Regions from separate parts of the Homo sapiens genome. Here all the other regions are linked to region 1. The links come from fine-mapping of genetic effects on gene expression. A gene starts in region 1. Each other region holds a variant in brackets. All regions are shown on one strand. Distances are between the middles of the regions.

Region 1 (4,135 bases):
CCTGGCTTTTGTGGGAACACAAGTGTCAGTGAATTTAGGCTGTGGCCTAAATATGCAAATTTTGGAGCCTAACCTCCAAAATTCGAAAGATGCAGTGTTCTCTCGAAGTTTGGAAGCCTAGTTCTGGGGTGGTAATTACATGATGGCTGGAGGAGCAACTGGTGATGGAAATCCTTAGGAGACACTAAAAATAACTCACATTTTAATCGACCAATCTGGAACTTCTCTCACCCCTTCATGCCAATCGTGCAATTACCATAACTCCATTCACCATGTTCCTCAGCAGTTAGTATGCACCATTCTCAGTCCTACAAGATAGTAACTATTATCCCTGATTCACAGGTCCAGGTACAACGGCAGGTAGCACAAGATGGGGAGGGGACTGAACCACACTGCACTCACACCCCACCCTACAATTAAAAACCGTCCTTCAGCGCGTGGCTGCCGAGCACCTCAAACTGAAACAAGTGTTCTTTACCACCTTTCTCTGGAGTGACAGAGAGAAAGAAAATCCCAGTAAGCCCTTCTGGCCCTGCCCACCACCTCCCCTGTTCCCACCCAGGCCAAAGGGGGAATGCGTGGGCCCTGCTCCCACCCCCGATGCTGACATCAAAGGAGCAGAGACACGCAGGAGACTCCAGGCAGCACCCGAGGCCCTGGCCGCCAGCACGTCATAATCCCTGCAGTCGCTGCCTTTCAGACTTAAAAAGAACAATGAGGAAAGACACCCACGCTTCCCCTCACTGGGCTAGGAAGGAGAGCTTTGCGGGTTTAGACTGCAGTCTCCCCCGCCCATAGCCACCTGTGTGCCGGCTCCGCAGACGAGGTCCCCCCAGCACCCTGGCAGGGACTGTACCATCAACAGACAAATGGCAGCCGACCAAGGAGGCGACTGGCGTGTGGAACAGGTGATCCGATTGTTTTTCTAAAGAGCAAGGGCTAGGACGTCCTACGTGTTCATATGCACAATTTTTTGAACTCCATCAAGAACACGAACCCCATGCCCACATCTTCACTGCTCAATTCACATTGTCTGATATGCACCTTCCAGGGAGAAAGAGGTTTTCATGGAGAAAGAGGCAACGTTGACTATACGTGTTTACTCAAAGCTTTTTTATACCGGACTATATGCCATCCAGGTTTAAGAGAATTCCAGGCAGGCTCTAGCATTATGTTTTTCACAGAAAAAGCCGGTGCAGTAGCCCGGATGCCCAGATCCACTCATTTCCCAAACCGGTTCCCACACCCGCTGCCCACCACCTGGCGAGGAAGGAGCGGGCGAGGTTCGCTCGAATCGTCGTCACGGGTTTCCGTGGGTACAGTTATTACTCGTTACATAATATTAAACAATTAAGATTAAAAATGGTTACATAATACTGTCCTATGGCTGGCGGCAACGAAGCTCGGGATCTCGGACTGCAGCGAGCCCGCGGCAGGCGGGCAGGGGGCCGCGCGGCAAGACCTCCCCGCCTCCCTCCCGGGCCCTGTCCGCCGCGGCCGGGGCCTCTGCAGCCTGCGCAGGCCGATCCGCCCGCCGCCCCGGCTCGCGCCCACCGCCCACCGCCCACCGCCCAGCGCCCGCGGCGGAGCCCACCTGAGTACCTGGAGAGCGGGCGGCAGCACTGGCCGCACGGGGTCGCTGCGTGTGCGCCGCCGGCCCGGGTAGGGCTTCGGGGCCCGGCCCCCGCAGTGCCCGGCGCGTGGACAGCGCTCCGCATGGACAGCGCTCGGAGCCGGGCCGGGCTGGTCCTCCACGGCTCCGCCCCGGCCAGGGGCCTGCGGCGCAGAAAACCGACCCGGGGCCTCGGGGCCACCGCGCGCCAGGCGAACGCGCTAGCACGAAAAGCGGGCCAACGCCGCCTCTGGGGACGCCATCCGGGCGAGGGTGGGATGCCGCGCCACCGCCCGAGCGTGCCCGGGGGCTCCCAGCGCCATCACCACGCAGGTGCCCGGGGGCCCCTCCGCGGAGCCGGCTGCCGCCCGGCTGCAATACTCAGCCTCCGAGGGACTGGGCGCTCCTGAGGAGCGGGAGGACGACGGAGCAGCGCCCGGTCCTGGAGCACAACAGGAATCCCAGGACCAAACCCATGTGACGCGGCCACGCCCCAACGCCCGGCGGGGGCCCTCTGCTGCCCAATCCCCGGATCCCTGGTTCTCATGGCAACCCTGAAGAACCCCTTGTTCCCTCCACTGCCTCCTCTCCTCCCCCACAGCCCCCCCGCCTGATGGGCAAGGACGCGCACACTGGCCACTCTGACGATGCCGAAAGCCCTCCATGTCTACCCGCTACGCCGCATTCGCAGACAGGCGGGGGACATCGCGGCCGCGGCAAGCTAGAGATGCCGCCTGCTCGAGCAACCTTCCACCTGCAGGGCCGGCCAGTTCTACTCTTCCAGGATCACTCTCGTCTCACCCTTCTCCCCAAAATGTCAGAGCAAGAACCAGGAAGGGAGAGGCTCTTTCTGGAAGCCACAGGCATAACGTTACTGAACAACGAGGACAAAGTAGGGTCCCATTTAAACTGAGAGTCAGCGAGGGAAAGAACAGATCCTATACATACCAAGCATCTGCTATGTGCTAGTCACTTCACACACACACACACCCCACACACACCTCACACACACACCACACACATCCCACCCACCCACTCACATACATACACACCACACACATACATACACACCACACACACACATACACCACACACACACATCACACATACTCCCCCACCCCCGCACACACATACACCACAGACATACACACGAGCCTGCAATGATGGAAGCAAAACAGAACGTTTGGAGATATTCACTGCCGTTTACAAGGCCACAGTAAGCAGTAAGCAGATTTTCTACTCCCCTCTAGCAGAGAACATGGTAGGAAAAGCTAGACATTGTAGACAGCAGTAAGAACCTAACAGTCAACAGTGGACAATGGATTCTGAAACTGAGATCCTATACTGCATTCACACACGTTAAGGGGCAGGGCGCTGGGAAAACCCCATCTCAGTCTGGGGTTCAAAGAGTGGAAAAGCTACCCTAGTCCAACTGCTCGGAGGCCAGGTCAGGCCCCTGAAGGTCACTGGAGGAGGAGGCTGGAAAAAGTGCAGATATGCACTCCAAAAGGAGAGGTTCCACGGTGGTCATGACCACAAAATTCCAATATGTTTAAGTCGATCAAACAAAAGCAGAGTTAAGGCTGGTTCTGAAAGCAGCCAAGAGCAGTTTTCAACACAACACAAAGGGTAACACAAGGCTTTCTTTTCTCACAGTCCGGGCTGACCACATATGGCCTGGCTACTGCAAGAAACATTGAAGGTGTTAGCGCTTTTGACTCTAACTGCGCACCCCTCAGAGAAGATGTCACATAGTGAACATCGCAAGGCACAGAATGGGAAATGGAAGCACAGAATCAAACCCTGAGATTCGGGGAGAAACCAAAGTGTGGAGAAATTATGTAACTTATCCAAAGTCCAGAGCAGGTTACTGACTGGGAGAACTTGGCTTTCCTTCCAGACTCCAGATATGAGACTTTTCTGCGGTCTGACACAGTGGCTTCTTCCACCTCTGCAGTCAACCCCACAAAGGTGGCTCGAGTGTTCCTCTGCCTCCCTGCCCAGCAGCTCCCAGCCTGGATGGTGAACTCCTTTGCCTGAACATCCCACGCACCCTGCCATCTCCTGGGCTAGAACAACAGGTTGTGCAGGACAGAGGGCTTCCCTGCCACACTCCCCTCTATTACAAAATGCCAGAGGTCCCAGTTCGAAGCAGCTGTTCCTGGATGTGGGAAGAGCAAGAGAGAAATGATCTAATGATGGACAAGGAATCTTGAAAAGCCAGACCTTCACTGAATGGCTGACAGGACACACATTTTGCTTTACTAGAACAAGAACAGAATCTTTGAAAAGGCATAAAAGCCAGTGGTCAAGAAGTAACTGACAGCAAAGGCAAAAGAGATGAAGGCTAAGCTGGAAAGTGGAGATGAAGCCTGATGATATACTCAGTGGAAGCCCAGAAAGTCTCAGGAATGAGAACTACCATTCACCTCTGGAAATGGGAAACGTAGAGTCCAAAACAAGAAGATTAATCGGAAGTGTCAGGAATAGCTGGGCCCCATTTCATCCCGGGTCCTCTCCCCA
Region 2 (4,135 bases), 69 kb before region 1:
CACATTCCCACTTAAATCCTGTCTCTAATGGGTACTGTTGCTACCTCATCTTTACAGATGAGGAAAAAGGAGGACAGCAGCTTGCCCAGCGAATCACATCTCGTAAGCGTGGGTGTGAGACCCATTGGGGCTGAATCAGAGAACATGTCCTTAACAACCGAGCTATGGGTAACTACAAAATCTGTCACTCAGAGAATTCCTAAAACATGCAGAAACTCCACAAGGCTGAAAAAGGCTGAAAAAAAAAATCCTAAAACATTAGTGAACTTGGTAAAAGCTGCAGTATCAGCACTCCTATTCTGCCAGTTGCAAGGTGTACAAAACTAGTCCCTCAAATGGAAATAACCTTCATAATAAATGAGCCAGAGCCATTTTTCTCACCCAAAGTGACACTGCCTGTTTTGATATTACACTTTAGGTCTATGCAAGAGGAAAGGAAGCAAGAGGTTTTTAAGCAGAGATTTCAGTCAAACTGATCCTTAAACAAAAACAAGAGCTGCTTCCACCAAAAGCCTGAGATGGGGGAAAAAGAAAAGTCAGCAAGCCAGGTGTCTCGTATCAAGGAACAAGGGGGATGCTCTTTACTTACAATTGTATTCACACAGGCTGCTGAGGCCAACATGAAAATATCTGGGCAAGCCCTGGTCAGAGTACAAAAAAACTTTTCTCCCAAATGGTAAGAATGCCTGGCCTGGCAGGGAAAATACCACCACATAAAAAATGATCACATTTTCACTAAAATCATACGGCCTAAAAAACACACAGATCAGTGGCTTGTACTCCATATTCAGGCACTTATTTCCACATAACTACCTCCAAGTGCAGCCATTCTTGAATTAAAAGCAAAAGTAGTGCATGAGCTGCCTCACTTTAACCACCCACTCTGCAGTGTTCAGCACAGAAACATCAATTCTGGTTATTCACAAGGGGAGGAGTCTATCAATCATTTACATTTTAAACAGCTCTATTGAGATATAAATTACATAACATAAATTTCATCTGTTGGAAGTGTACAAACCAATGAATGTTAGTATAATTAAGGATCTGTACAACCATCACCACAATCTAATTTTAGAACATTTCCATCACCCTACAAAGAAACCTCCTGCCCAGAGCCTGTCAATCTTGACAAATGGTTTTCCCAAAATAAAATGCCTTTGCCAAGTCAGTTTTGTTCCTGTTTTTGCATCTGGTATTCCCACATCAATGAGGCATTTTGGCCGAAAGGGGGACAGCACTAGCTCTAGAATTTCTACAGAAGAGTAGCTACATGACCTTGGGGAAGACATTAAACCACCCTGTGTGAGTATAACCTCCAAGGACTATTGAAGATTTAGTGTGATCACACATGGAAAGCACGGCTCAGTAAATCTCAGCTGCTATTTTTACTACTGCCACTACTGCCCCTGCCTCCTCCTCCTCTGCGGTCACTACCTCCCCTCCCGACATTTCCACCAGCACTCCACCCCTTCCCACCACCTCCTTCCATCTCCATCACTTCTCCTGCCACATCAGCTCCTCCTCTACCTTCTCCACCTCCTCCACCGCCACCTCCATCTCCTCTACCACCCCCACCATCATTTCATTACCACCTCCATCATCACCTCCAGCACTTCAACCAACTCCTCTACCATC[T/C]CCACCATCTCCTCTACTATCTCCACCATCACCTCCACCTCCTCTGCTACCTCTATCACCTCCACCTCCTCCACCATCTCCATCCTCACCTCCACCTCCTCTACCATCTCCACCATCACCTCCACCTCCTCCACCATCACCTCCACCTCCCCCATCACCTCCACCTCCTCCACCACCACCTCCACCTCCTCCATTGTCACCTCCACCTCCTCCATCCTCACCTCCACCTCCTCTACTATCACATCACCTCCACCTCCTCCACCATCTCTATCCCTCACCTCCACCTCCTCCATCTCCTCTACCACCTCCACCATCACTTCCACCATCTCCACCATCACCTCCACCTCGTCCACTTCCTCTACCACCTCCACCCTCACCTCTAGCTCCTCCTCCTCCTCCACTACCTACCCCTTCATCACCACTTCCACCCATTCCATCACCTCTGCTCCTTCCCACCACCCTTCACCTCTTACATCTCCAACACCTCCATTGCTACCAACACATCCACCTCCACACTCTTCATTATCTCTATATCCTCCTCCCCCTCCACCACCACCTCTACCATCACCTCTACCTCTTCCTCCCCTACCTTCACCCCTCCTCACCACTTCCTCCATCCCCAACTTCAACAAAAAGGCAACTATTCAGACACCAAAATATCCACATGTATTAACATAATATTAATTTGTTAGAATAGTCAACATGTAGCAGTACCTTAATCGATCATGAGTTCTAGAGTAACTTAACAGTCTGAGAAATCAGAAGATCAGAATCTCTAAACTACCCACTTAATAATTTTGACAACACAATCTTTAAAGTACCACAAGAGGATCAGTGACAATGCAAGTTATAGTCAAATTATATTTATATACTTTAAATATAACTTGAGGCCAGGAGCAGTGGCTCATGCCTGTAATCCCAGCACTTTGGGAGGTCAAGGTATGCAGATCACGAGGTCAGGAGACTGAGACCATTCTGGCTAACACGGTGAAACCCCGTCTCTACTAAAAATACAAAAAATTAGACGGGTGTGGTGGCGGGCGCCTGTAGTCCCAGCTACTCAGGAGGCTAAGGCAGGGGAATGGCGTGAACCCAGGAGGCGGAGCTTGCAGTGAGCCGAGATTGCACCACTGCACTCCAGCCTGGGCTACATAGCGAGACTCTGTCTCAAAAAAAAAAACAAAAAACGGAGTGCAATCCTGAGCCCTCCTGAGCTCCCAGGTGGGGTGCACAAAGCCATTGCAATTGCACTGAACCCAACTTCTTCAGCTTCAAGCTTCTCGTTTTCTCTCTGGGTCCCACAACCCCAGCAACCTCTACACTAAAACCAGAGAACCAAACCATGTGCGGCTGTGAGAGTGATCAACAGAGCCAGGGTTGCCCTCCTAGCAGATCAGGGCCGTAGGAGGCACATGACACACCCACATTCTTCCCCCATGAGCAGAAGGAAGAGAGAAATCTCTTCCTTGAACTTTCTCAACAATAATCTCAGAATTTGGAAATAACTCTCATTGTCCTGGCTGACCAGGAAAAGGCCCCAGGGTTTGATATGATGAATCCTTGGTGGTGGCTTTTCCTCATTTCTAAGTCCCTCCCACAGGTAGAGGGCAGGGGGCCAAGGGTAAATGGCAGCCAATGCCAAGAAGCTGGAGGCGGAATGAGGTAAGCTAGGTCTGGCCTGGAGCTCCAGCCTGGGGCTCCCAGGTGTGGCAGCCCTTTGAAGGGCAGGCGCGATCTGGAGCAGGGAAGGGCATGGAGCAGCTTCCAGGTGCAAGCAGAAGGGCTGGGCTGGCAGGGCAAGAGGACGGCGGTTCATAGTGATGCTCCCCAGAGGCTTTGGATAAAGCTCGTTTTATTCATAAAAATGAATAAACAGCACAGATCCCAGGGCTCAGGAAACTCAATCCCTCTGCCAAAGAGTGACTTTTCCCAGTAAGACCAAACTCGGGCAGCCATTACAGCAGGAACAATTGGTGGATCCCAACCTTGCTGTGGGCCATAAGAAACAGTTCACCTCGCCCTTCAGGTATGAAAAATCTTATTGTGGCATGAGCCAAATGTTTACAAACTGCCAGTGTGACAAACTATGATTCTGAGCAAATAACTTCACTCTCTGGGCCTATTTCCTCACCAATAAAATCAGGTTTTTGGACCATATGACGTCTAAACTTCTTCTGAGTTCCAAAGCTGGGTCTGCACACTCCACAAAAATGTTCCAAAGCAAATCTACTCCTAGAACCACGGTTAAAATAATATCATGGGTGACTTCTGAGCTTCTGGCCAATATGGAATATAAAGGATTAGATGTACCCTCTCCCCCTAAATAACTAAAACTGAAACAGTTTTCATACATTTGACAACAGGCAGCATGGGACAGTGATTCCTGAGACATGATCCACATGACGCAGCCCTACTAGTGCCCACTCACTGGCTGGAGAGAGCTTCCAAGCTGCAGCGCAGGGAGGGGGAATCTCCCTTCCAGGCAGAGCCTAGGATCGTC
Region 3 (4,135 bases), 44 kb after region 1:
TTAAGGAAGTTTTGGCTATTCATGTGCATTTATTTTGGCATTAAATTTGTGTTTTAACTATTGGAGGGAAAATATATTGAGACTTATTTGGTTGCTTTTCACTTATTTAAAAGCATTTAAGATTTACTTCACTTTACAATTCTATCAGTTTATTGCCTTTACAATTCTATCAGTTTATTGCCTTTCTGGAGTTTTTATTCTCCCAGTCATATTCCAAAATGACCCAGGATCTGAAAAAATTCAAACTGAGTGACTGTCCTCAACCTCATGTCTTGGGATGAGTCCTATTTACTCAGTGGGTGGGCTTTGCTGAGCTGTCTGGGTTTGAAGGATGCCTCACCACTTGCGGCCCCTGAAGATCAAAGCAGTCCATGCTCACTGTAGAGTAACCCTCAGCACAGAAGGGTACGATGCAAACACCCAGCCTTCTCACCCACGCCTCCTTCCCTGCCTGCCCCGTAAGGAACACCTATGCCCCAGGGCTCATCCAGAAAACAGTTTCTTTTGCATCCTTATAGATGAGTTCTTTCAATCTCTCCAGGCCACAGTTTCTTTGTCTATACCAGGGCTCAACTAATATTTTCTGCAAGGGGCTAGATAGTAAATAGTAAATATTTCAGGCTTTGCAAGCCATATGGTCACACTCTCTGGTGTCAAAGCAGTCGTAGACAATATGTAAATAAATGGGCAAGGCTATGTTTATAAAACTTCAGTTATGAACACTGAAGTTTGAATTCGGTCTAATTTTCACGTGTCACACAATAGTCTTCATAGATGTATTTTTCAACCATTTAGTCACATAACAACTGTTCTTAGCTCGTGGGCCCTATGAAATCAGGTGGTGGACATGTTTGGGCTGAGACCCCTGCTCTACGGGGGCATAAAACGCACAATATTGTGAGAATTCAGGAGCACGAGCTTTAACTAACAGCACAAGGCATATCACGTGAGAGTCATTCAGTGGCTGGTATTCACTGATCTCTATCAGAGCAGAAAACAGGTGCTTTTCGTGAGTGAAAGCAGGAGGCTGAAGGCCCACTGCACTTTTCTCGTGGGTGATTTGGGGTCTCTAACCAACACCTAAGGCAGCAAGCCATTTCTCCTCAATCCCTGAGTTACTCTGGTAAGGGAATCAAGTTTGCACTGCTTTTCATACTTTCCCCCACTAAATTTTATTATTTCCCTTTTGTTGGTTCTTTCTCTCTCAATTCTCTTTTCTAAGCTGACTCCATTTCTTTTCTGGAAATTTTCAGTATTGTGGGGCCTGGGTATTAGGGATTAGGAACACTTGCAATCTGAAAGCCTGTGTCTTAGGAAGGTGTATGCAAAGGGAATAAGTGGAGGGGAACCCCCTGTGAGCTGTGCAGACCAGAACAGGTTTTTCTCCTAAGGTAAGGGTGTTCAAGAGGAAAAACAATGTGCAGATATTAACTCTTCCTTGAAAGTTTGTTATGTAGAGTTAAAGATTGCAGATTACAGGCTTTAGAACCAAACTGCCTAGGCGCTAATCACACACTCAGAACCACGTGACTATAGATAGTCGCTAAACCTCTCAGATTTGGTAGCCTCATCCATAAAATTAGCGTGGTAATCATAATAGCAGATACCTCAATGTTATTGTTAAGATTTTTAAAAGTTAATATATGCATAGCCCTTAAATCAGTGCCTAGTATGGAATGGGTAATCACTGTTAATTTCTCAAACTTTTTATTTTGGAATAATTTTAGATTTAGAGAAAAGCTGTAAAGATAATACAGGGAGTTTCCCTATACTCTCCATCCAGTTTCCTGTAATTGTTAACATCTTACATATCCGCAGCATGTTTGTCACAACTATGAAATTAACACTGGCACAATACTACTAACTAAACTCCAGACTTTTTTTGTATTTCACCAGTTTTTTTCACTCATGCCTCTTTTCTGTTCCAGGATTCCATCCGGGATCCCACAGTGCATTTAGGCTGTCTCCTTAATCTCCTCCCATCTATGCCCATTTCTGGGACTTTGTTTCTTTTTCAAGACCATCACCCTTTGGAGGAGTGCTGATCAGGCATTCTGGATGATGTGCATCGCTTTGAGTTCGGCTGATGTTTTCTGTGATCGATTGGGGTTATGTTTTGGGGGTGAGTGCCATGGGGTGAAGTGCCCTTCTCATTGCCTCGCCTCGGGGGCACATGACTTCACCATGACTCAAGTCTGGTGATGTTAACCTTGAGCCCTTGGTTGTGGTGGCATCCGCTAGATTACTGCATTGTGAAGTTGCTATTTTTCTCTTTCCA[T/C]ACCCTTCTAGAGGAAGTGAGTCACCAGGTCCAGTCCACACTCACTAGGAGAGCAATGAAGCCCCACCTCCTGGAGAAGTGGCTGCATCAATGCTCCCCTGTATTACTTGTGGTGCTTCTGTGAGAAAGATTTGTCTCTTTTTCCCTATGTATTTGCTTATTCACATGTTTACTTATATTGGCATAGACTCATGGATTGTTCCAGCTTTGGCCATTGGGTACTGTTTCAGGATGACTCCTGTGTGCTTTTGATGTGTTCCTATTTTTTAAAGCATGTCCTCTGATGCTACAGGATGCTTCAGGCTGATCTGGAATTTCCCTTAATTCAGTTATTAATTCAGCCATAGGATTGTATGAGGATGCATGACACAGGGGACTTTTATTGTTTGGTCTGTCCAGGATCCCCCATCCCTGGAAGAACTCATCTCCCCATCCCTTGTGGTCCTAGGTTGTCCATCAGCACACCACCCCCAGTGGGCCACAGGAGGAAGGACTGATGCAAAGGGTATGCATTTCCACAGGGCCAGGAGGGCCTCCCTTGAGGTGGCTATGTGTATGTTGGGAAGGAGAGTTTCACTTTCCCTGTGCTGCTAAACTGGGAAGCTGGTGGTGGCCATCTTCCCCACTTCATGAGAGAACTTGCCTTCAGAAGAAGCCAATACAACAGGAGGCAGAGCTGACCTTGAGAGAGAGCCCTGCCTGTATGACAGCACCTCCCATCCAGCTCTTCTTGACACTCTTCAATGTTCCACCTACATGGACCAAGACACTCCAATTGCTTTTTAAGCTCATTGTGCATATGACTACATGAAGTACCTAGCATGAGGACCACATCTTTCTGCCAGTCCGGCCCTTCATAGAATTTACACCCCACCTACTTCGATGGACACCAAAATATAATCCTCACACTTGACCTAGACACACCCATTATGCTGATTGAAACAAATCAAACTTTAAAAGCACTTCAGAAGACTACTTTTTAGAATCTAGTAATCACCCTTGATTTATGCTTTATGCAAAATTACACAGATTTTTAATGAATTTTTGCACAAATCTAAGTATAAATACAGATGCTCCTGAACTTACAATGGAGCTACTTCCCAATAAATCCATCATAAGTTGAAAATATAGTGAGTTGAAAATGCATTTAATACACCTAACCTACTGAGCATTGTAGCTGAGACTAAAACATTCTCAGAACACTGACATTAGCCTACACCTGGGCAAAATCATCTAATCCAAAGCCTATTACAAAAAGTGGAGAATATCTTATGTGATTTATTGAGTACTGTACTGAAAGCGAAACTAAGAATGGCTGTATAAGTACTCAAAGTACAGTTTCTACTACATGTGTATCACTTTTGCACCATTGTAAAGTTGAAAAACCTTAAGTTGAACCATCGTAAGTTGGGGATTATCTGTATATCACTTTAATAAGGCGAAAACAATACTACAACCTAATGATCATAAAGATATAGTGGAATAGGTACATTTATATAAGTAATAGAGTAAAAGGTTATACAAATCAACATCCATAAAATTGTGGGATTTTTGATCTAATAATCTCACTTGTGGATGTAACCTAAGGAATTTAAAAAAGTTTTTTTAAAGACAGATTCATAAGTTTTTTGCAGTCTGATTATTTAATAGAGAAATATGGGAAACAATTTATGTGTTCCACAATGGGGTCTTTTTTTTTTTAAGTGAAACCTTAACTCTTTGAAATGTTATATGATTTTTAAAAATTATAAACATGAAGAAACTCAAGCAAGATAATGATATTTATTATGGAGGCTGCATTACTCGGGACAGGTTAAGTTATTATGACTTAGAATAAGGGCCCCCAGGAGTGTGTGG

The links. PIP is the estimated chance that this variant, and not a neighbour inherited with it, causes the effect.
Region 2: its variant is fine-mapped to the expression of GRB10 in whole blood (TOPMed, PIP above 0.99).
Region 3: its variant is fine-mapped to the expression of GRB10 in blood mononuclear cells (TOPMed, PIP above 0.99). The same link has a PIP of 0.9 or more in monocytes, monocytes after LPS, monocytes after Pam3CSK4 and monocytes after R848.

What each region holds. Positions count from the first base shown.
Region 1 is chr7:50,780,822-50,784,956 of GRCh38, forward strand. GRB10 (growth factor receptor bound protein 10) reads right to left here and starts at 2,075. Exons shown (of 19, transcript NM_001350814.2): 1 at 1,603-2,075.
Region 2 is chr7:50,711,859-50,715,993 of GRCh38, forward strand. The region is part of intron 4 of GRB10 (growth factor receptor bound protein 10); the gene reads right to left. Among named protein-coding and RNA genes, the nearest start is that of GRB10, 69 kb to the right of the region's middle. RefSeq lists an enhancer at 3,352-3,867. The variant T/C (reference allele first, on the strand shown) is at 1,636.
Region 3 is chr7:50,824,714-50,828,848 of GRCh38, forward strand. No RefSeq gene overlaps it. Among named protein-coding and RNA genes, the nearest start is that of GRB10, 44 kb to the left of the region's middle. RefSeq lists an enhancer at 1,686-2,885. The variant T/C (reference allele first, on the strand shown) is at 2,279.